2 separate regions of the Homo sapiens genome follow, and region 1 is linked to region 2. Evidence: fine-mapped expression QTL. A gene starts in region 2. The other region holds a variant in brackets. All regions are shown on one strand. Distances are between the middles of the regions. Region 1 overlaps LOC102723368 (a long non-coding RNA gene). Region 2 holds the start of TMEM74 (transmembrane protein 74).

The links. PIP is the estimated chance that this variant, and not a neighbour inherited with it, causes the effect.
Region 1: its variant is the best candidate, but not a certain one, in a credible set for the expression of TMEM74 in left ventricle (GTEx, PIP 0.88).

What each region holds. Positions count from the first base shown.
Region 1 is chr8:108,758,855-108,769,374 of GRCh38, reverse strand. The region is part of intron 1 of LOC102723368 (a long non-coding RNA gene); the gene reads left to right. It also overlaps a transcript of TMEM74 not described here. Among named protein-coding and RNA genes, the nearest start is that of TMEM74, 23 kb to the left of the region's middle. The variant A/G (reference allele first, on the strand shown) is at 5,386.
Region 2 is chr8:108,783,164-108,793,683 of GRCh38, reverse strand. TMEM74 (transmembrane protein 74) reads left to right here and starts at 6,090. Exons shown (of 2, transcript NM_153015.3): 1 at 6,090-6,208; 2 at 8,547-10,520. The coding sequence starts at 8,586. The coding sequence ends at 9,503. RefSeq lists silencers at 5,975-6,154, 6,570-6,864.

The sequences.
Region 1 (10,520 bases), 24 kb after region 2:
GTTGAAGGACTTTGAAGATCTATGATGTGACTTTTTTTGTGTGTGTGTAAGATAGAGTCTTGTTCTGTCACCCAGGCTGGAGTGCAGTAGTGCAATCTTGGTTCACTGCAACCTCCGCTTCCCAGTTCAAGCAATTCTCGTCCCTCAGCCTCCTGAGTAGCTGGGAATACAGGCACAACACACACCATGCCCAGATTTTTTTTTTTTTTTTAGTAGTAGTAGTAACCTACTACTACTAAAAATAGTGTTTCACCATGTTGGCCAGGCTGGTCTTGAACTCACGACCTCAAGTGATCCACCCACCTCGGCCTCCCAAAGTGCTAGGATTATAGGCGTGAGCCTCCATGCCCTGCCTCACGTGACATTTTTAATATTAAGCTGTTCCCTCTTCCAAATTGTTCTGTATATTTTCTCTCAATATCTTCAAACCTTGCATACAAGTCAGTCATACGTAACAGCCTCAGGTCAAAGGGTCCATGGGAAATTTAAGGATAAGACATGGAAAAGAAGGCATGCCCCTTGGAATTACCCTTCTACTGAGGTCTACTTGGCAAAGGTGACAGCAGTTGAGGGAGATGGTTGTTCTAGAATTCCATGATCCTTAGGGAAACAGGTGAAGGTTTGAGCCAGACCTGAGAGCAGCAGGTAGGAGCTGATGGTAGCAGAAAAGCGGACCCTCATATGCACTGGCTCACTTTCAGTTTTTCCCAGACCTACCAGAGGAAGGTGGGAATTGAAGAGAGTTGTGCTATGACAGGGGAGGGAAACGCGGGTGTGAAAGTCTACAACACTTGGGTTACAGGAGGAGCTGGTGGTATTGCTGTCAGAGACAACACCTATGTATGTCATGATTATATAAATTGAATTTTTCTGTAGATAATGCAAGAGCTACTCATTTTTTTAAAATGAAAGTAGCATAATCAGATTTTAATGTTAGAAAGAACACTCAGATGATAGGATCGAGAAGAGATTGGAAAAGTAGGTGAGGATAGTTGGGAAGATTAGGAAGGGTCCAGAGATAAATAATAAATTAGGATGTCGAAGAGAGAAACCAAGAGGAGGCAATAAATTAGTCATTTCAAAGATCAAATCAATAAAGTTGATGGTTAATTTGAATGGGGTGGAGCAGTGAAGGAAATTGCTTGAATTATTAGTCACTAGCCAAGGTATGGAAAGCTTAGGAAAAAGCACAAGATTTAATGGGAAGGATATGTTGAGTTTGAGGTCTGTGGGGAACACTTAAGTGAAGATGGCTAATGGTCAGTGGAAGTATGGGTCTGGAGAACTGGAGTAAGGCTGGGCTTATTTATGATATAAAGCTTTGTGACAATATTCTCTCAGCCCAAAATTGGGATCCAGAGTTTTTCCGATTTCCAATGGCCAGTGAATTTATTTTCATGAAATTTTTACAAATACATGTGGAAGCGTATCATTTGATTTCAACTAATCTTCTTTGAGTAAAAGAATAAAGCCACTTGAAATCAAAATGTCCCTGAAAAAAAACGGTATATGGTCACTATATTTATACCTCATCTGTTTCAAAAAGAATTGATGTAATTGAGATGTTAGACCAAAGCTTAATAATAAAAAATATTAATTAGAAATTGATAAGAAAGAGAAGAAAATATAAGTAACTAGATCCCTGAAATTAGTCAATAACCCCAATACAAGTTTAAGTTAACTTGAGATTTCTGTTAAAATTAAGAAGGGGTGAAGAATATTTGATCAAAGTTACAAAGTATTTGATAAAAATGAAGGTCAGTATTAATTTAGGGAGAGAAACACTTCTTGACACAAAATTCTATGGAGAATTTGTCACACAGATCTGTATATAAAGGACACTGAGCAACAGTGAAAAATGGTTTTACCAAAGCTACAGAAATGTTCTCAAAATGGATCCTTCCTATATTGACCCTATTTAAAAGCTAAAGACATAATATTGAGTCCAAAGGGAAGATACTTTTTTTCAGAAAACTAAGATACCACGGCTCAAGTAGGTTGCTTTTTGATGATAATTAAAGGAATGGGGCCAGAAATCTTTTGAGGATTGGATAGTGAACATGTTTTGCTAATGCTCACATCTTAAATATTTTGAAGCAAGCTTCTGACAAAATTGCTGAATCTCTACTCTTTTGTTGTTGAATTCTCTGATGAGTGTTTAGGTTTTTGACATTCTGTGTATAGATGAAAGGAAATTTCAAATTCTTCAGGTTTCAGACTGTGATGGTTAATATTGAGTGTCAACTTGACCGGATTGAAGGATGCAAAGTATTATTCCAGGATGCGTCTGTGAGGGTGTTGCCAAAGGAGATTAACATTTGAGTCAGTGGACTGGGAGTGGTAGACCTACCCTCAATCTGGGTGGGTACCGTGTAATCAGCTGCCAATGCAGCTATAATAAAGCAGGCAGGAGAAGATGGAAGAGCAGACTTGCTGAGTATTCCGGCCTTCATCTTTCTCCTGTGCTAGACTCTTCCTGCCCTCAAACATCACACTCCAACTTCTTCAGCTTTTGGACTTTTGGACTTACACCAGTGGTTTGCCACGGGGCTTTTGGGCCTTTGGCCACAGACTGAAAGCTGCGCTGGCGGCTTCCCTACTTCTGAGGTTTTGGGACTCGGACTGATCACCACTGGCTTCCTTGCACCTCAACTTGCAGACAGCCTACTGTGAGACTTTACCTTGCGATTGTGTGAGTCCATTTTCCTTAATAAACTCCCTTTCATATATACATGTATCCTATTTGTTCTTCCCACTAGAGAACCCTGACTAATGCAAAGACCTATGGGAGAAGAGTTGAGGCTCTATTGTGAAAGTTTTGGAGGCACATTTTATGGTGGCCCACGTGGAAGACCTTACCATGTTTCCATGAATGAGGGCCTCTACAAATTTTGTAAAGGTCCTTCTAACTTGGAAAATTACTTTGAATCTATTTAATCCCTTACAGAATTTTACCACTGAAGGTTAAAGAATATAATTTTGGCTTGGAAACTTCAATAATTTGTCATCCCAGCCAAAAAAGCAAACTCTTTATTGCCTCTACAAAGAACATTCCCATGAACCCATAAGATCCAAATGAAATAACTCAATACTTCAGCTCTCTTTTGATTAGTTAAAAAGAGAGAGACAGAGAGAGAAAGAAAGAAGAAAGGAAGGAAGGAAGGAAGGAAGGAAAGGAGAAATAACCCCCAAATTAATAATATAATAATAAAGTTATCCCTCATTGCTGCTTTCACTGGACACCTTCAAATATGATCTCTTTTAAAATCCTGCTGGATGAGGTCATTTAACCATACCTATTTAAATATTAGGGAATACCAGTAAATGCAAGTATTTTCATTGTTAATTAGATTATGCTAATGCTACTGAAAATAATCTGCCGATATACTTTTTGCTTTTTCCAAAGCTCTGATATGAACAAAACAGTTTGGTTCTTACACACTTTTTTTTTCACATTTAGAGAGAAAGCCTCCCCCAATAAGAAAAATTTGTCAAAATGCTTATGAGCACTTTAGATTTAGATAAGGATACATCATTCCATTTATTGTATGTAAGTATAATAATTTAGGACAATATGTACAGTCAATCTGTTTAAAAATTGTCTCTATAAATTGTTAAGTATGTGATAAATCTTGAGCTGTTATTAACGTTAAAAGTAACTAAAGATGGCCAGGTGCAGTAGCTCACACCTGTACTCCCAGCACTTTGGGAGGCTGGGAGGGTGGATCACTTGAGGTCAGGAGTTTGAGACCAGCCTGGCCATCATGGTGAAACCCCATCTCTACTAAACATACAAAAAATTAGCCGGGTGTGGTACCACGTGCCTGTAATCCCAAGCTACTTGGGAGGCTAAGGCAGGAGAATTACTTGAACCCAGGAGATGGAGGTTGCAGTGAGCTGAGATTACATCACTGTACTCCAGCCTGGGTAACAGAGTGAGACTCCATCTAAAAAAAAAAAAAAAAAAGTAGTTCCAAACTGCTAAGACCTTAGTTAGGTTGTGTTGCCTATGGGGTCCCCAAGCTCATCACCATCCCTTAAAGTCCAGGATGATGGAAGCCTCTCAGAATCTTGACTAAAAATTCCAGTATCACTGACAGTGAGAGCAGAGAGTACTCTAAGTAAGGCAGGTTTGTCAGACCTGAACCTCTTTTCTCAGAATTGTCTAAATTCTGATCACCAGTTCAAACCTGGAACTCAGTGCCAAGGTCTTTAGTGTAGAAACAGCAAATGTGCACCTATGCACCTATTTCTTACACCTATTTCCAACCACAAGTTAATCAAGCACAGAGAATGTGTTGAAGTTGTGTGCCTGAAAATGATAACCACATTGACTTGATAGGCTGAAAACGGAAGGGGAAGAGACTAGAAGGCCCAGACACATCAGAGCCCTAAAAATGTGATATAGCGAGTGGATGAAGACTGATAAACTCAGCTTCATTGAGTTCTTATGGATTTTCTGCAGCTGGATAATGAGGCAGAGAGTTCATATCTGGCGAAACTGGGACTAATCTTATTCCTTAAGTTGCCTACGAGAGTAAAGAATGTTTTTAAAGACCAGATACAAGCATTTTTAGCAGCCAGCAAATTGTAAGTGGAGATAAGACAGAGTGGATGAGCTGGAAGAAGAGCTATCCTTCCTTGAATAGCAGTTCAAGCTCATATTCCCTCTGTCACCATTCAGACATGACCTCCGCCAGCTGAGCCTAATGCACAACCGCAGCATAAAGAAATACTGTCTCTTAGAATGGCATGCAGCAGGAAGAGGCAGGGCCTTTTGTCTCAAACCAACTTGTGCATACAGAGGAATAAGGTATTATCCTCATCTTAAACTCAAAGCACTCTCTATTTCAGAACAGGAAAAAAATGTACATGGCATCCAGGAATTTACTCTTTTATTTAATCTCATTCTCCTGCTTATCAGTTATTACCAGAACTTTATTCTCACCTTTTTAACCCTTCCTTTCCCTTTATCCCTCTAGGAAAGACACATTTTTAATCATTGACAAATGTTTGAGGTTTTTGTTTGTTTTAGTTTTAGTGTTTGTTTGTTTAGTCCTGACTATAGAACATGTCCAGCCTGTTGAAATTCTATCAAAGCTCTAAGGCTTACAGATGCCACCTGCACTGTTAACTTAGTCTTTCTTCTCCCATTGCTTGCAGTTGGTATGCCATTGCTGTAAATTAGACTGAATCTGCCATTGAGACATCCTCTCCTTTATCTTGTTTGTGTTGTGGAGATAAGAGATAAATTGAATGCCCCAAGTGAAATGCTATCAAGTTTTCCCTCTATGTGTAGAAATGGCAGTTTCTGAAGGCTCACTTATTCTCAGAACTTCCACCCTCTAGAGTTGATACAAAAGGAAAAAAAGGAGGTAAAAATCC[A/G]TGTTTACTAATTGTTTTCCCACTGGGAGGCTTTTCACTAACTCTTTTACTTTCTTTTCCAAAATACTGTTATGTCAAGCTGTGTGCATGAAAGAATGATTAAATAATCAGAAACCTGTAATATTAAAAGTTGGAAGAATTTTTGTTTAATCCTGAGACTATGCAAATTGTCAGTAAGCCTATACCAGGCTGAGGAATAACTCTGGAGATTGTTATAATTTCTCAAATCAAGAATGCTTTTAATTCAGATATGGAATTTCACTAATTAAAATAAGAATACCAGTAAAATAATTAGATCTTTTACTAGAGAGGTGCCTTGCACATCTGCTTTGTGCTAAGTGCTGACATATGTTTACTTATTACTCTAAACACCATAATGAAGGGCAGACATTCTTACCCAAGGTATAAATTAATACTTCTTGGTGGTATTCATGGTCATTCCCAAATAATCTAAACCACAGATACTAAATTCAAATGCCAAGCGTCAATTGTTTCTTTTATGTTATTTATAATATCTCCAAAATTGGTGAATATTACAGTTGAATTGTATTTTAAACATACGAGTACTATGCAAACTATTTCATGCCTAGGTTTGTGTTTATATGGCTAAATCTCAGGAAAAGATTTTTAGTGCTTTAGAGGCACAGTTAACATTTTTCAGAATTACTTAAAATTCATTCATCTCTTTGCCTTTACCTCCTTGGGTTCTGTTTTCCCTTGTGTCTGACTCACAACATCTACTTTATGTGGGATGGTCTAAGGCATAATAGATGGGAATGTTACAATGGGGAAAAGGGTTGGTTTCCTGAACTTATCAATGGGAAGAGAGGAAAGGTTTAATTGGGATTCAGCCAGATGCATGGGATAATTCATTCCATGAAATATGGATTAGATGAACATAAAGAAATATGGGAATGACTGTGGAAAGGTAAAATAAAAGAAAACAATTTGGAGGAAATTTATTCTTATGTGTGCTTTCATTTATTTAATAATTTTTATTGATTGCTAAATTCTAGAGATTTTGCTAAGCAATGGAATATAAAGGTAAACAAAGCAAAACTAGAAGCTACCTGTCCTCAAGGAGTTTTTTGTTTTGTTTTGTTTTGTTTTTAAATATGAGGAGGTCTCACTTCATTGCCCGGCCTGGCCTCAAACTTCTGGTCTCAAGCAATTCTCCCGCTTCTCCCACCTCAGCCTCCTGAGTAGCAGAGATTATAAGTGCATACCACTATGCCTTCTATTAAATTTGGATCTAGTAGAGGAGACAGGTATGAATCAAATAATTACATAAGAGTACCATTCGAATTAATGATAGGTACAAGAAAGGAAAAAGATGGGGAGATATGAGAATGTATCATGGGGAAAAAGTATATATAAGGAAATGATGTTGGAGCTGAGACCTGAAGCTTGACTGGTGACAAGATAAATGCTGTTGGTCATTGAATTTTGACACATTCAAGGTAGGTTCTACCCATGGGGCTGAGTTCAAAATCCCTGAATACTTACGACAGATAAACAAAGGAACTGAAAACAGGAACACATTAAGAAATTACACAAAATGAGGAGCTGACATTAAGTCCTAAGCCTGCATATTACTAACTGTGCTTTGAGGATTTTCAGCTTATTCATGAGAATCAGCTATTTGTCCTTAAGAGAAGGCATGAAATAATTCAGAGTATTTTCTTTAGGTCACAGGAAACCCAGCATGTTGGAAGCTGGAATCCATCATGTCAAAGTGTATTATATATTTGTATTATTTGAATCTCTGAAATGTTAGTTAGGTGCAATTGGAGAAATGGAGATGATAGTCTATGCCAAGTTTATTTGTGGGCAAAGAGGCTTTCATTCATGAAGCACAGTTGTTTCTGCCTCAAAATCTTATTGAAGATGATGTCTATCCTGTCAACTTTGGCCTCTGGTGTTAATAGCAGGAAGAATGAAACACTATTAAATTATTTCTAAACTTCGCTGGATTGAATTCTGATCAGCTCAGAAGTGTAAGAGGGATTGCATTAGGTGGAGAAAGAGTCTTTAAGGGTCTTTATTCCAAAACCTTACAGGAGGGCTCCAAGCCCTGTGGCGGGTCTGTTTTGTGTTGTGACTTGATAGCAAATCACAGTGTTTGACGAATTTTTTTGGAACAGAGAGCTATTTGTATATTTTTTGTAATAAACCCTTGAAATATATTTCATAAGGGAATTGCCTAGCTTTTTGAAAGATTGGTTGATGTTATAAATGTCCTCACGCAAGGACTAAAGAGAGAAGAAAAAACTCAGTTATACCACCCAGAAGAGCATTAAAGCTGCATTTTATTTGGACAGATAGGAGAATAGGAAGAGGGTAACATATTTTTGCCTGTGGCTTCTCTGAACAAAGACCTTGGATATGAGACTATCCATCTCCAGCCTCAGATGATTTTCCTGAACACGAATAAGAGGCTCAGTTTAGAGCCTGTTAAAATATCCTCTCTAATAAGATGGAAACTGCATCTTTGTTTCAGACATGGCCTAGGTACAGAACTGTACCTATGGCTGTCATTTGTAAGGATAAAATAAACAATTTTCATAGATCATTATTAATAAAAGTTTACATGTATTGTAGACTTACTGTGTTTCATCCTCTGTGCAGATCTCTTTATATTGATATTTAATGTTTATAATAACACTATGAGGTAGGTTCTATTTATATGTTGGGGAAACCAAGGTGTAAAGAGATTAGAAAACCTAATGTAAGATCAAGTAAGTGGATAATCCTGGATAGAGCCCACGTTCCTGACTCCTGAAACCATGCTTCTAACCACTATAGTGTACCGCTTTTCATCCCCAGAGTCTAATATTTAGTTTCAGTTATACTGGTGATGTTTAGTGGATTGATGGAGGAACGAATTGATGAACGAATAGAAACCAAAATAAGGTAAATAAATTCAATTAGTTTAATAGATTCTCTTGCAAGGGAAAAATAGAGGGAAATTTAGTAAAAGTAATAAAATTTAACACACACACACACACACACACACTCCAAAACCACTTAAAAAGAACCCCGTACAAGAGGAGAACACTGCAATTAGAGGAGGCCCTTTTAACTGACAGAGTCAGCCAGCAATGACCCAATCCCAGAGCAAACAAATCATCTCTTTTCCCTTCTGCCTGGCAGATTGGCTTCAGTGTTGAACCAGTAAAAGCTTGGGGTTGTAGCACTCACAGGTTCACTATAGATCATGGTGTAGGGTTACATCGCTGTACCCTCTCCAGGTAATGACACCCTTGGCTAAGGCTCACATCAGACACCAGCTATCAGGCATGACATTGCTACAGCCAGACTACAAAGTGACATGAGAGAATTTTGAAAAAGGGCAAGGGGATAATTGCATCTCTTCCAAGGAGAGCTTCCTGAAGCTCTCCTTGGCAGTCATCCAAGTAAAGCTGAGTTAATGTTGCAGTCAGAGCAAGAACAAGCCACAAGCATTTGCTGCCTCTCACACTCCTGCCAATAGATGCATTCTGTTAAAACTGCACTCAGAACAGGCTTGCTAATAATCGTCAAGCTCTGCTACTGGCAACTCATCTCTTCAGATCGTTTCTGTGCCCAGCACAGCCTCTGTGACCGCGCATTGCTACCCTGGTGCACTTGGCTTTTCAACCCAGATCACCAGTCCCAAGAGACTGGCTGACCCTTGTTCTGCTTCACCTAAGCTGCTGGAAGTTCCACTTGCAATCAAGCAAAAAGGCCTTCAGACCTATTATATGGTCTGTTTGTCAAAGTGCTCTGAATGTCATAGTGGAAGTCTCTCTCTCTCTCTCTCCCTCTCTCTCTCCCTCTCTCTCTCTCTCTCTCTCTCTCCCAGTCTGCAGAACAGTGGCGCAATCCTGCCTCACAGCAACCTCCAACTCCCAGCTTCAAGCGATTCTCTTACCTAAGCCTCCTGAGTAGCTACAACTACAGGCATGTGCCACCACACCTGGCTAATTTTTTGTATTTTTAGTAGAGATGGGTTTCACCATGTTGGCCAGGCTGGTCTTCAACTCCTGACCTCAAGTAATCCACCTGACTCATAGTGGAAGCCTTCTAAGCCATGCTTTACATCATGCATATTAGACGACTGAACTGTGTGAAACTCTTCCTATTACAGGTCAAAATATATAGTGGTTTAACCCAGCACGTTTATCTTACCCATTTTTGTACAAAGCATATACCATGAAATTTAAATCTCATTCCACCTCATTCTCTCAGTTCTCCTCCATAGAAGCATCTGTCTTTAACAATTTATGTAAACTTCCAAATATTTTCATGGATATGCTTACACAGATTTGTTTCTAAGCATATATATTTCTTACACCAATGAGACCACATCTGTGTACATACAGTGCCATTCTTCTTTGCCTTGCTTGTTTTTACTCAGTTTATATCAAGGATCTTTTCTTCTCAGCCATTAGAGAGCTACCCCATTCATTTTGCATATTCACTTTATGGACATATCATTATTTAATCAGTCCCTTTTAAGTTGTTTCAAAAGTTTTGCTATTACAAACATTGCTGCAATACATACCTTTCTATATTTACCTTTTTATTACATCAAATATATTCATAGAATAAATTACTAGAAATATAATTGATGAATAATAGGTATATGCATTTTACGTTTTGATAGATACTGTCAAATTGCCTTCCAAAGACATTGGAATTTACCCTTCCACCAATAGCAGATGAAACAGTTCACTTTTCTTAATACTTAATCCACCCTCACAACTGTTACAGATAATTGTGTTTTTTAAAAAATAAACAAGGCAGTACAGATTAGAATTGTAGCTTATCTTACCCCTCTTCGATCTCATACCCCTTTTTACTTCCATTGAGATTATAGCCATATTAAATTTATTATTCCCACAATTTTTAATACTGTTACTTCTAATACATGGATTTTATGGATGCATTTTACATATGTTATGAATGCTTTATACATTTACTTTAAATAAACACTATATATATTATTTGGACACATGTCTTTAAGCATTATATAAATCATGTAGTATGGTATCGTCATTTGGCAGCTGGATTTCTTAAAAATCACGTTTTATTCCTGGAATTTACCCTTTATCTATATAGCTTTGATTTAGTTTATATTTTTCACTGATATA
Region 2 (10,520 bases):
AATATAGAGCAGATATCAAAAATGCCAAGCCAAAAAGGGCTAAATTTAATAAAAACACATCAATCAAGAGTGAATGTGGAAGAAAAGCATTGGGCAAGAGTTGGGAAAGGAGATAGCAGAAGAGTGCACAGAAGGCTACCTGTTATTGATTTTGCCTCATGTGAAATACCTCTCTCTGGAGACTTACTGTTAAGGAACTGGTAGCAAACCCACATATCTGCAAAAGCTAAGTAGTAGGAGAACTGAGCCAGATATAAGTTAAGGGTGAGAACTATGAAAATCTGGATACTTTATGTCCCATCTACAGAGTGCAAAACCTACTAAGCTCTAGTTAATTGTTAACATACAAAAGTGAGGTCCACGTTTCAGGATTTTTCATATAATTCAAGAGAAACCAGAAATCCAAATAGCTTTCTCAAATCTTCCAAATTTCCAAATTTGATAAATACCTAAATAAATTGTAACAACTCAATGCACCAATAAAACCATGTATTTAGATCAGATTCAACCCATAGCTGTCAACTTGTGTTTTTTACTTAATTAAATTAACATGGACCCTAACAGCAATAGTAGATTAAAAAGAAAATGAAGGTACAAGATTAGGGCCAGTGAATGCAGTCTTGTTTCTAGTAAGTTTAATTATAAAGGAAATCTGTGGCCTAAAGACAACAGGGCCTTTATGCAACCAACAGACCCAAATCCTTCTACCAATGTCCAATATTCTCCCCATATTGTGCTTTCTAAAGGTGTCATAAAGTTTATATACAAAATATTAGACATGAAATGTTTCCATATTTCTTATTTTGAGATATCAGTGCCCAGATTACTTTAAATCCTAATGTTGTAAGCGTTTCGGGAGAATCTGAATAGCATACCTTTGTACACTCCTCACCCTGCCATGCATAGCAAGATGCCAGGTGAAGGTAAGTCAGAGAAAACTATCTTCAGGTTCTTCTTAAGGTAAAACAGAACGCTTAGATTTTGATATAAACCCTTAATGCAGAGATTGCAAATTAGGTGTTTGGAACCTGAATCCACTCCAACAGCTGAATCCAATCCAACAGCTTTTTATCATGAACAACTGCATATAGAAAAGTACATGAAATAAAGAGGGTTACCTCCGATAATTTAGCTCAAAGAGAACACCCTTGTAAACACATCCGGGTCAAGAAATAGTGCCAGGTCTCAGAAGCCTCCCCTTTAGTCTTCTCAGAATCACTACTCTTTTCTTCCCTTACAAAGGCAACCTACCTCTTGACATTTATGGTAACTGCATTCTTGCTTTTCTTTATTGTTTTGCTAACATCTCCAAATACTTTGGTATAGTTTGCCTCTTAACTAACTAAATATCAATGAAATTATGTAATAGAACTGCACATTGTGTATTTTTTAGTGGCTAGCTTCTTTTCTTGAGTTTTATTGTTGTGTTTTTAATATTCATATTTATTAATTTTATCCTGAAGGTACACATGGTGTTGGATCAGAAACAGATGATTTACTTAAGAGCAAATAATGACCATGCGGTCCTCTGGATCCCAATTCTTACCCTTGGCACAACACAGTGAAAGCCAGGTCAGATGTCCTAGGCGTACAAACTTTGAAGTCTGTATCACAGATGAGAAACAAGAGAAAAAAATAATTTAGTGTGTTTACATACAGAAGCAAGAGAAAACTATCTTTTCCACCCCTCCCCAAAAGATAGAAAAAAAAAATCTTTGCTCCTTGGATGCAATAATTTTGGGTTCTCTAAATGTTTCAAATATAAATACATTTCTTCAAAGCCAAATGCAGTGAGTAGGTCTAAATTACCTAGTCTATTACTACGGGAAACAAATGTTCCCAATAATTTTTTTTTTCTCTGACTCATTAAGGGTTTAAAATACATTGAATTTTGAATAACAAATTGTGATATCTGACTTTCATTAATGTCTAAATTCACTTAAGACAAAACTCAGGTAGAACAGTTAGGGGATACTGCCCCTTTTGGGAAAGGCACTTGCTCTTAACTTCGGTAATCTTCCCCATCCCTATTGTCTGTATTCAGCCACTTTATTTAAGTAACATGCCTACTTGGCCACTGTAAGCATTCTTATTAAATGGAAACCTTTCTAATTTAATGCTTTTTTTTGTTCCTAGAATCTTGTTCATTAACAAGATCTTCATTCTCTAAATTATGGTCACCTTCATTCTTAGCACCAGTATGGGGTATAGGACCATATTCCTCATGCTATCCCTATTCAATGACTGATCCTCCCTCCAGCCTATTCCAAAAATGTCTTTCTTACTTCTCTAGGACCCAGCCTCTCATAATAATAACTCCACTAATAATCCCTTAATAGTCCACTAATCAGCCCTTATTATTATTACTGAAGAAAAAGAAACTGGAACACATCCTCAGTAATTATTACAAGAGGCTGGTTGTTAAAAGTCCCAGCACTACCCTTGATTTACATGGTAAATTTACTTCTCAGAATTTTTCTTATTTTTCAACTAGTTAACTTAGTGTAGTAACGATTGCTCCTCTCACATGAAACGGAGTATAAGTAAACAGGAAAATGTGAGACATTAAAATTAGAGTAAGACCAAAATCATTATGTAGATTTCTAGATAACATTTTACAACTGTGAATTGTTTTATCAGCATATATTGAGGAACTACTGTTGCCTATGTGTCGCACTATTTCATGCCCACATATAGCTTCAAAGAAATAGAAAGAATATGTTGGTTCTCAAGGAGCTTAAATTTTATCTGGAGAGATCACATAGAAAGCACTATAAAATATACATGAAATACTTTTCTATATCTAAAATAACAGCATAAAAGAAAGCATATTATGCTACTAGAAAGCCAGTTAGAAAGGTAACGATAAGTTGAGGACGTTGAACAAGAAAGGCTTTTGAAAAAGGTTCTTGGGTCAATTTTCAGGAAAGTTTTAGACATAGACTTATGAGAGAGGGGGAAAGTATTCCAGCAAGTGGCAATTTTTGCAGAGCTTTTATTTTCAAGTGCTCAATTGGTTCATCTCTATTTTTTGTCAGCAGACTTTTAAAGGGGATTTTGTGGTGTTGGTTGGAATTGATATATTTTTAATGCTCAAGAATATGTAGACAGTCAAGTATTATTATAGGTAATCATCTCGAGTCTTCAGTTCAGTCTTGACATCTTCCCTCTCAACAGAAATACTGCACTTTCTGCAGGAGGTAAGGTGTTCAGCATGTAGATGCTGACCTTAAGGAGTTTATGATTGATTACCTTAGAGATTTAGGCACCTAAGTGAGAAGTTAAACCACATGCAGTGGCTACCTAGCCATTCCAGAAATGTCGTAAAGCAGTGGATGATAAATATCAAAAACACCAGTACTGACAAGTCCCAGCAAAGTTCACAGGAGGTGTAATCCTTGGAAGAAAAAGGCTTCAGGGAAAAAAAAAAAGTAACTTAAAATCAGTTCAGCCTGGGAATCACAGAGGTCCTCTAATCCAACTAGATGAATCCCTTCTATGAAATCACTAATAAATGGCTCTCCTTTTTTTTTTTAATCCTCACCAGTACCAGAGAATTTGCTTTCATGAGACATCAATTTAAAAGTTTTAGAAATAATGTCCTTCCTTATACAAAGTCTCAAATCAGCCTCCTTCTTAAATTTAATAGTGCTATCCAGAGCTTCTCAGATCAGTGCTTTGGCATCCTCCAGCACTCCAGTGTGTCACAGGTGTGCTGACTTATTTATTTCCTTAGCCCTCCAAGCTGTCCTGCAGAGACTGAAGTACCCACAGCCCCAGAACTATGGCCATGAGAAACCTCCTGTGTTTATCACATTGCCATAAATAGTATCACCTCTTATGTGTACTCTGCTGTAAAAAAGATTGTGAAGCATTGCTCAGTATAATGTGTTGGCAAAGAGATCAAGTCTCTGGAATCACACAGACCCAAGTTAGAACCTTAGCTCTGCCCGATATTAGTTTTCAGGCCTTGGAAAAGAAACTACATCTTTTCAAGCCTCAATTTCTACATTGCAAAATGGGTGCAATAATACTGCCTCCCTTGTGAAGTTGGTGTAAAAATTAAAGATGATAACATAATAGCACTAACAAAAAAGTATTATTGTTATTTGTTCTGCTTTTACCCTTTTAAATATACTATAGAATTCTTCTTCTATTTTTAGAAACTTCAGAATATTTGAAGCTAGTTTATTGTTTCCTCTCAGTATTCTCCTATGGCTAAATAGCCTAAGTTCCTAAGTTTTTCCTCGTCAACATAAATTCAAGTTCCTTCTACATCTTAGTTTCTCTCTTTATTTCTTTTTGCATATGTAGTACTAAGAACTGGATGCATCCCTGTAGATTTGGCTTGACAAACTAGTCCTTGAAGTGTGGATGGAATAGGGCAGTGGAGGAAAGATATTCATGCTGGAGAACCGTGTAGTAAGCAAAGGAGAAGTCATAATACATCTGTCATGTTTATCAACAAATGGGCCTCACTGGCTACAAATATAATCATATGGGGGAAAAAGAATTTTAAAGAGGGAGCATTGTGAACTCCTGTAATCATGTGACTATAGATTCTATCCAATGTAATGAAATACCAACATAATTGTCATTAAAGGAGATAGATCTCTCTTTTGAAAGCAAGCAACCACAGTATTTATGTGAGCTACAAGCACAATGTCATAATACATACTATAATCCCTAATCCCTTTTTTCTTTTTTTCTTTTTTTTTTTTTTGAGACGGAGTCTTGCTTTGTCGCCAGGCTGGAGTGGTGCAGTGGCACGATCTCTGCTCACTGCAACCTCCGCCTCCGGCTTCAAGCGATTCCCCTGCCTCAGCCTCCTGAGTAGCTGGGAGTACAGGCACGCGCCACCACGCCCGGCTAATTTTTTCTATTTTAGTAGAGACGGGGTTTCACCATGTTGGCCAGGATGGTCTCGATTTTCTGACCTCGTGATCTGCCCGCCTCGGCCTCCCAAATTGCTGGCATTACTGGCGTGAGCCATCGTGCCCAGCCCATCCATACTATAATCCTTTTTTGCTCCCCTAGAATTGTCCCAACAGGATGCTGGAAAACTGGAGATTATCTGCAAGCTACACATACCCTGGGCTTTCAGTGGCTGTTGGCTATTGCAGTCCACTCTGGTTGAAAGAGGCTGGTGACACAGTTACCTTGTCCTATCCTAAGAGTCACAACTCAGAAGATTCAACCTTCAGATTTCCTTTATTCCTGAGCCCTTTTATTCTGGCCTTCTGGTCTTTCTTCCATTCATTCCATATAGCATAACGCTTAGAATCTGTTGGTGTTCATCCCCCCCCCCCCACCTCTGCTAAGTATTAGTTGTGTGACATTGGGCAAATTATTCTACTTTGTAACTCAGTTTTGCCTTCTGTTAAAATGAGGATTTTTTTTTACAGTACTTTAACAATAAATTGTGACCATTAAATGAGATAATGTATCTATAGTGCTTAGAAGAGAGCCTGGCAATAATAAGCGCTATTTATGTTAACTGTTATTTTGAGTCATTATTATTCATACATTCAACGAATACCACTGTGCTAAATACAGGGGATGTGTTGGTACATCGGACAATCTCTTACCCCTTATGGTCATATTTCTTCTGATTTTGTGAGACACGCAATGACTTTCGAATCTGACTCCTGGATGCAATTTCAGAAGCTGCTGTTGGTAACTGTGGATGAGGCACTTACCCTCTCTGAGCCTGTTTCCACATCTGTAAAATGAGGATTAATAAAATCTACTTGGAAGATTTGTTTTGACTATTAAAAAGACAAAATATGCAAATTATCTGGCACATTTGAAGTCGAATATACTTTCCTTTTCACAGTCTTGTGGCCACACCTGAGGCTAGGGAACTCCACTCTAGGCTTAGAAAACAGTGCTGTCTTCTTAAGTGCTGGGGAGGAGTAAGAGGGTATGGCGGGAACTCATCTGCAGGAAGGGTAAAACCCAGAAGGCGTGGGAGGAGACAGAGACAGGAGGGATGCAGGGACCGCCCCTGGCCTACAACTCCCGGGATGCTCCGGGAGCGCCCCGCCCCGCCCCACCCCGCCCGCCGTGGCGGGCGCTGCCCACCCGGCGGAGCCGAGCGGCGTGCAGAGGCTACAAGTGCCGTAGCTGGTGATTGGGGGACTTTCTCCGGGAACCGTGCCGGGAGAGCGCGCGGTGCTGGAGCCGCACCGGGTGGCCGAAGCAGAAGGTGAGTGGCGGGGAGTGGGATGGGGTGGAGGCTTTGAATGCAAGGGTGAGAGCCCTGGAGCCTAGCAGAGCTGGAGCGCATATCCCCGCTCTCTCTCCTTCGTCTCCGAGTACTAGGCGGACACATCCGTACCTCGAATGCCTCAGTGGGCGCAGAGTTCACCAGAAATGGATAGCCGGATTCCTCGGCGCCTGCTGGGGGCACCGCTGCCAGGTGCTTGGGGCTCGCTCTCCCGGCTTTGCTCGCACAGGGCGCATCCAGAGGTCGCCTCCCCGAGATCAGCCTTGCCTGTGTCAGTTTAAAGCAAATATTAATGCTTTTAATTGATGACAGATGGACGAGGGAAAGTGCGTGTCCCCTCGCTTTAAGGTGCAATGTCGTTAACTGGGCTTTTAAGCAGATCAGAGGAAAAAGAGGGAGAGGACGGAAGAAAAGAGTCTTTAGCTGGTCCCCTGGGATTATCCATTCTCCACTGAGAATGGAAACCCCGGATTAGGGAGCTGCAAAGGAAATCGACTGTGCTGCTAGCATACCTCCGGTAGAACAAGCGAACAAGCGGGAGTAGCTTTTCTTTAAAGAGAGGTAGAGGCGGCCGTAGGGAATTAAGTGGGGATTTCTCTCTTCTTTTGTTATAAACTGAAAGTCTCAAAGAACCCTGCTGATTTTATCCAAGGTAGGCTAGTGTGATGAGTTAATGGTACCAAAGGTTAATCAGAGCCCCTAATGCCTGAGAAAACTGGAAGAAGAGTTATCGGTAATTGATGAAGCCTGTTACCATCACTTCATTCATTGAGGGATCCTTTAGTGGGGGTTTGTTCTAGTTTAGTAGTGATTCTTTTGCCCTGTTGTTTTTTGCTGTTTTCACTGTAGAGAAACTCCGATAACAGGAGAAAAACGTTTTCTGTTTTGCTTTTTTTGTTTTGTTTTAAACAAACTCTTAGGTGTAGCAGAAAACATGTCAATTCCCTCTCCCATATTTTGAGTTGCCAGGTTGACCTTAGGTGACCCTTGCCTGTGTTTCTGTTACCAGCTTTGGAGCTGTGGATTTTGAATTATAAGAAGCCTCAAGCCGTTGGGTTAAATCAATTATCACCCTGGATTTGGAAGCAAAATAAAAGGAGCCTTTGGTTAAAATCTCTAATGATAGTGGAAAGTGAATTTTTATTCCTTAGAAACATGGCAGAGGCAGAGAAAAGCCGATGGTTTTCTGCTCAAACCAAAGTTCTCTCCCAGAAATGCCCCTTGCTGCAGTCGGGGGTGAGGAGTGACATGTTTATAAAATTACAGAGGTAACCTTGGAAATAGCTTCTCACCTATTTGTCTCCACAGAACTCTTACTCTGTGGGTTTATAGTTTGTCTTTTATTATCAGTTCACTTCTAGATTGGGTTTGTAAAACTATCCAGATGGTCAATTTCTTGTGCATTGTGTGATAGCAAAGCATGCAGAGAGGGAGGAACACAGACCCAGGGAACGGGAGTAGCAGATCCTGCAGCTGGAGCAGGCAGGTGTGTGTGTGGAGGAGTGGGTTGGCCCATTGTATTTTGCAGGGATTGCCGTAAGGTCTGTTGCCTGTATGCTTTGGGGTCCAGAACATGCTTCCCCCATGGAGCAGTGAGGGAATAGGGCTAAGTGGAAGCACAGTGAATAAGCAGCATATGGTCTTGTAAATACAGGGCTGTGTCACTAGGGTCATTGGATGTATGAGGTGTAAGCTTAGCAGAGGTGGCTGATTAAGCTGGCCTTTTTCATCTACTTCAGAGCTATGGAATCAAAATGCTGAGTTCCTGCCCAGCTGATAGGGGTGTATAGTCATTCACTGATGGTGATGCTCCAAAGCTAATCTGTATTAGAATTTGCTCTGAACTAGGGAGAGTGTAAACACTTACAATCTTACTGAATTAACAAGTCTATGCTTCCCCAAGTCCTCCAGAAAATCGGCAGCTCTGCTAAAAAGGGCTCTTGCCTTTCTCATTTGTCTTTTTACAGGAAACTTGCCTTCTCGTTTGAGGGATCCTTTTGCAGGAATGCGCGAGTCCTTGAATAAATTTGGCTTGGTGACGGCAGTATTCTTTCTCAGTAGACACTGCCACTTCCTCCACGCACCTTTCTACCCTGACTTAAGTTTCTCAGTGTTAATCACTATGACAAGTGAGAGCATTTGTCCCTTCCACACTTTCCTGCCACTAGGTATCCCCTCCCTTCTTTTGCCTGTTTGAGGTGGAAAAGGGGCTAAACAGGTGCAGCTGTGAAGGAAATGGGGACCCCAGGAGCAACACTCCTGGAAGTACAACCTTAGCTTCTGTTGGGTTCTTATCTAACTCTGTTGCTATTGGCAGACTTTCCGGAAGCTGCTGGGGGATGTCTGACTAGCTCTCATGGAGCTCCACTACCTTGCTAAGAAGAGCAACCAGGCAGACCTCTGTGATGCCAGGGACTGGAGTTCAAGAGGGCTGCCTGGTGACCAGGCAGATACAGCAGCCACAAGAGCTGCTCTCTGCTGTCAGAAACAGTGTGCATCCACCCCAAGAGCAACCGAGATGGAAGGGTCTAAACTTAGTTCTTCTCCAGCATCCCCCTCCTCCTCTCTGCAAAACAGTACTCTTCAGCCAGATGCCTTTCCACCAGGACTTCTCCACTCAGGGAACAACCAAATAACAGCGGAACGGAAAGTCTGTAACTGCTGCAGCCAGGAATTAGAAACTTCTTTTACCTATGTGGACAAAAACATCAACTTGGAGCAGCGGAACCGGAGCTCGCCATCAGCAAAAGGGCATAATCACCCTGGGGAGCTTGGCTGGGAAAATCCAAATGAGTGGTCCCAAGAGGCTGCCATATCTTTGATATCTGAAGAGGAGGATGATACAAGTTCAGAAGCCACGTCTTCAGGGAAGTCTATAGACTATGGTTTCATCAGCGCCATCTTGTTCTTGGTCACTGGGATCCTGCTCGTGATCATCTCTTACATCGTCCCACGGGAAGTGACTGTGGACCCCAACACTGTGGCAGCCCGGGAGATGGAGCGCCTGGAGAAGGAGAGTGCGAGGCTGGGGGCTCACCTGGACCGCTGTGTGATTGCGGGGCTCTGCCTCCTCACGCTGGGGGGCGTCATCCTGTCCTGCTTGTTAATGATGTCCATGTGGAAGGGGGAGCTCTATCGTCGAAACAGATTTGCCTCTTCCAAAGAGTCTGCAAAACTCTATGGTTCTTTCAACTTCAGGATGAAAACCAGCACGAATGAAAACACTCTGGAACTGTCCTTGGTAGAGGAAGATGCGCTTGCTGTACAGAGTTAATTCTGGTTGTGAATATCTTGAGAGTCTGCCTTGGCATTTTATAATATGAAAAAAGTTAATTTATAAAAATTCACAGTGCAATTTATTTGCCTGGCAAGAAAAGTTTATTTCACAAACCAACAGCCAGTAAGTGTTTTTGTTCTCTATGTGTCTTCTATTTAGAAGAAAAGCCATGTAAGATGTATAAGAAACCACAACCAGCCACACCTATCCTTCTGAAGAGCTGAAGGCTAATTAATCTGTAATGGCCAAGAACTTCTACTTCGATAGAAAAATATTTCTAATGACCCAGTCTACAAATTATTTCTTTTACACAAATATATGATGTTATTCTTTGGACACTAGGTGGTCCTACACACAGTAGGATCAATTGCTAATCTACTTTGTGAAAAAGAACTAAGCACTAATCAATAATAAGGCTTACATCTAATTCTCAAAGGTGCTTATCCATTTTCTTGCTAAATTATCCTTCTTGTAATTTGGCTAAACACTAAAACATGGAATTTTTAGTTTGAATATTTTGAAGTTTGAGGATGTTGGGCTTTCCTTATTGTAAAAAATGTTATGTTTGAAATTATTCCTGTTTTCAAAAATGGTAATTAAGTCATTAGGATAAACTTTCTAATAAAAAAAAATTATGTAAATCATTGTAAGACCAATGTGAATTTAAACCACAGTGTTGGTGCCAGATATTAGCCAGGGTCACAGGCTCTTTTTTAAAATGAAGTCAAATTAGTTACTGATATAAGTTTTATATTTTGTGATTTTGCCATCATACTGGTTATCTGTGCTCTTGAAGTCTGCTGGTTCTCACACCAGCAGCAAGAGGCAAGGCATGAGACATTTTAAATATATTTCCAGACATCTAAACATCTAGACAGGCCTGAGTCATGATTGGCTCTGGTGTGCTTCCAGGTAACATCTTGTTATTGCTGTTTGGGGAAAACCACCAATAGAATTGCAGCTAGACTTTTGGGGACTGTGCCTCGCAGGCTGTATCACTTGCTGTAGGCCAAG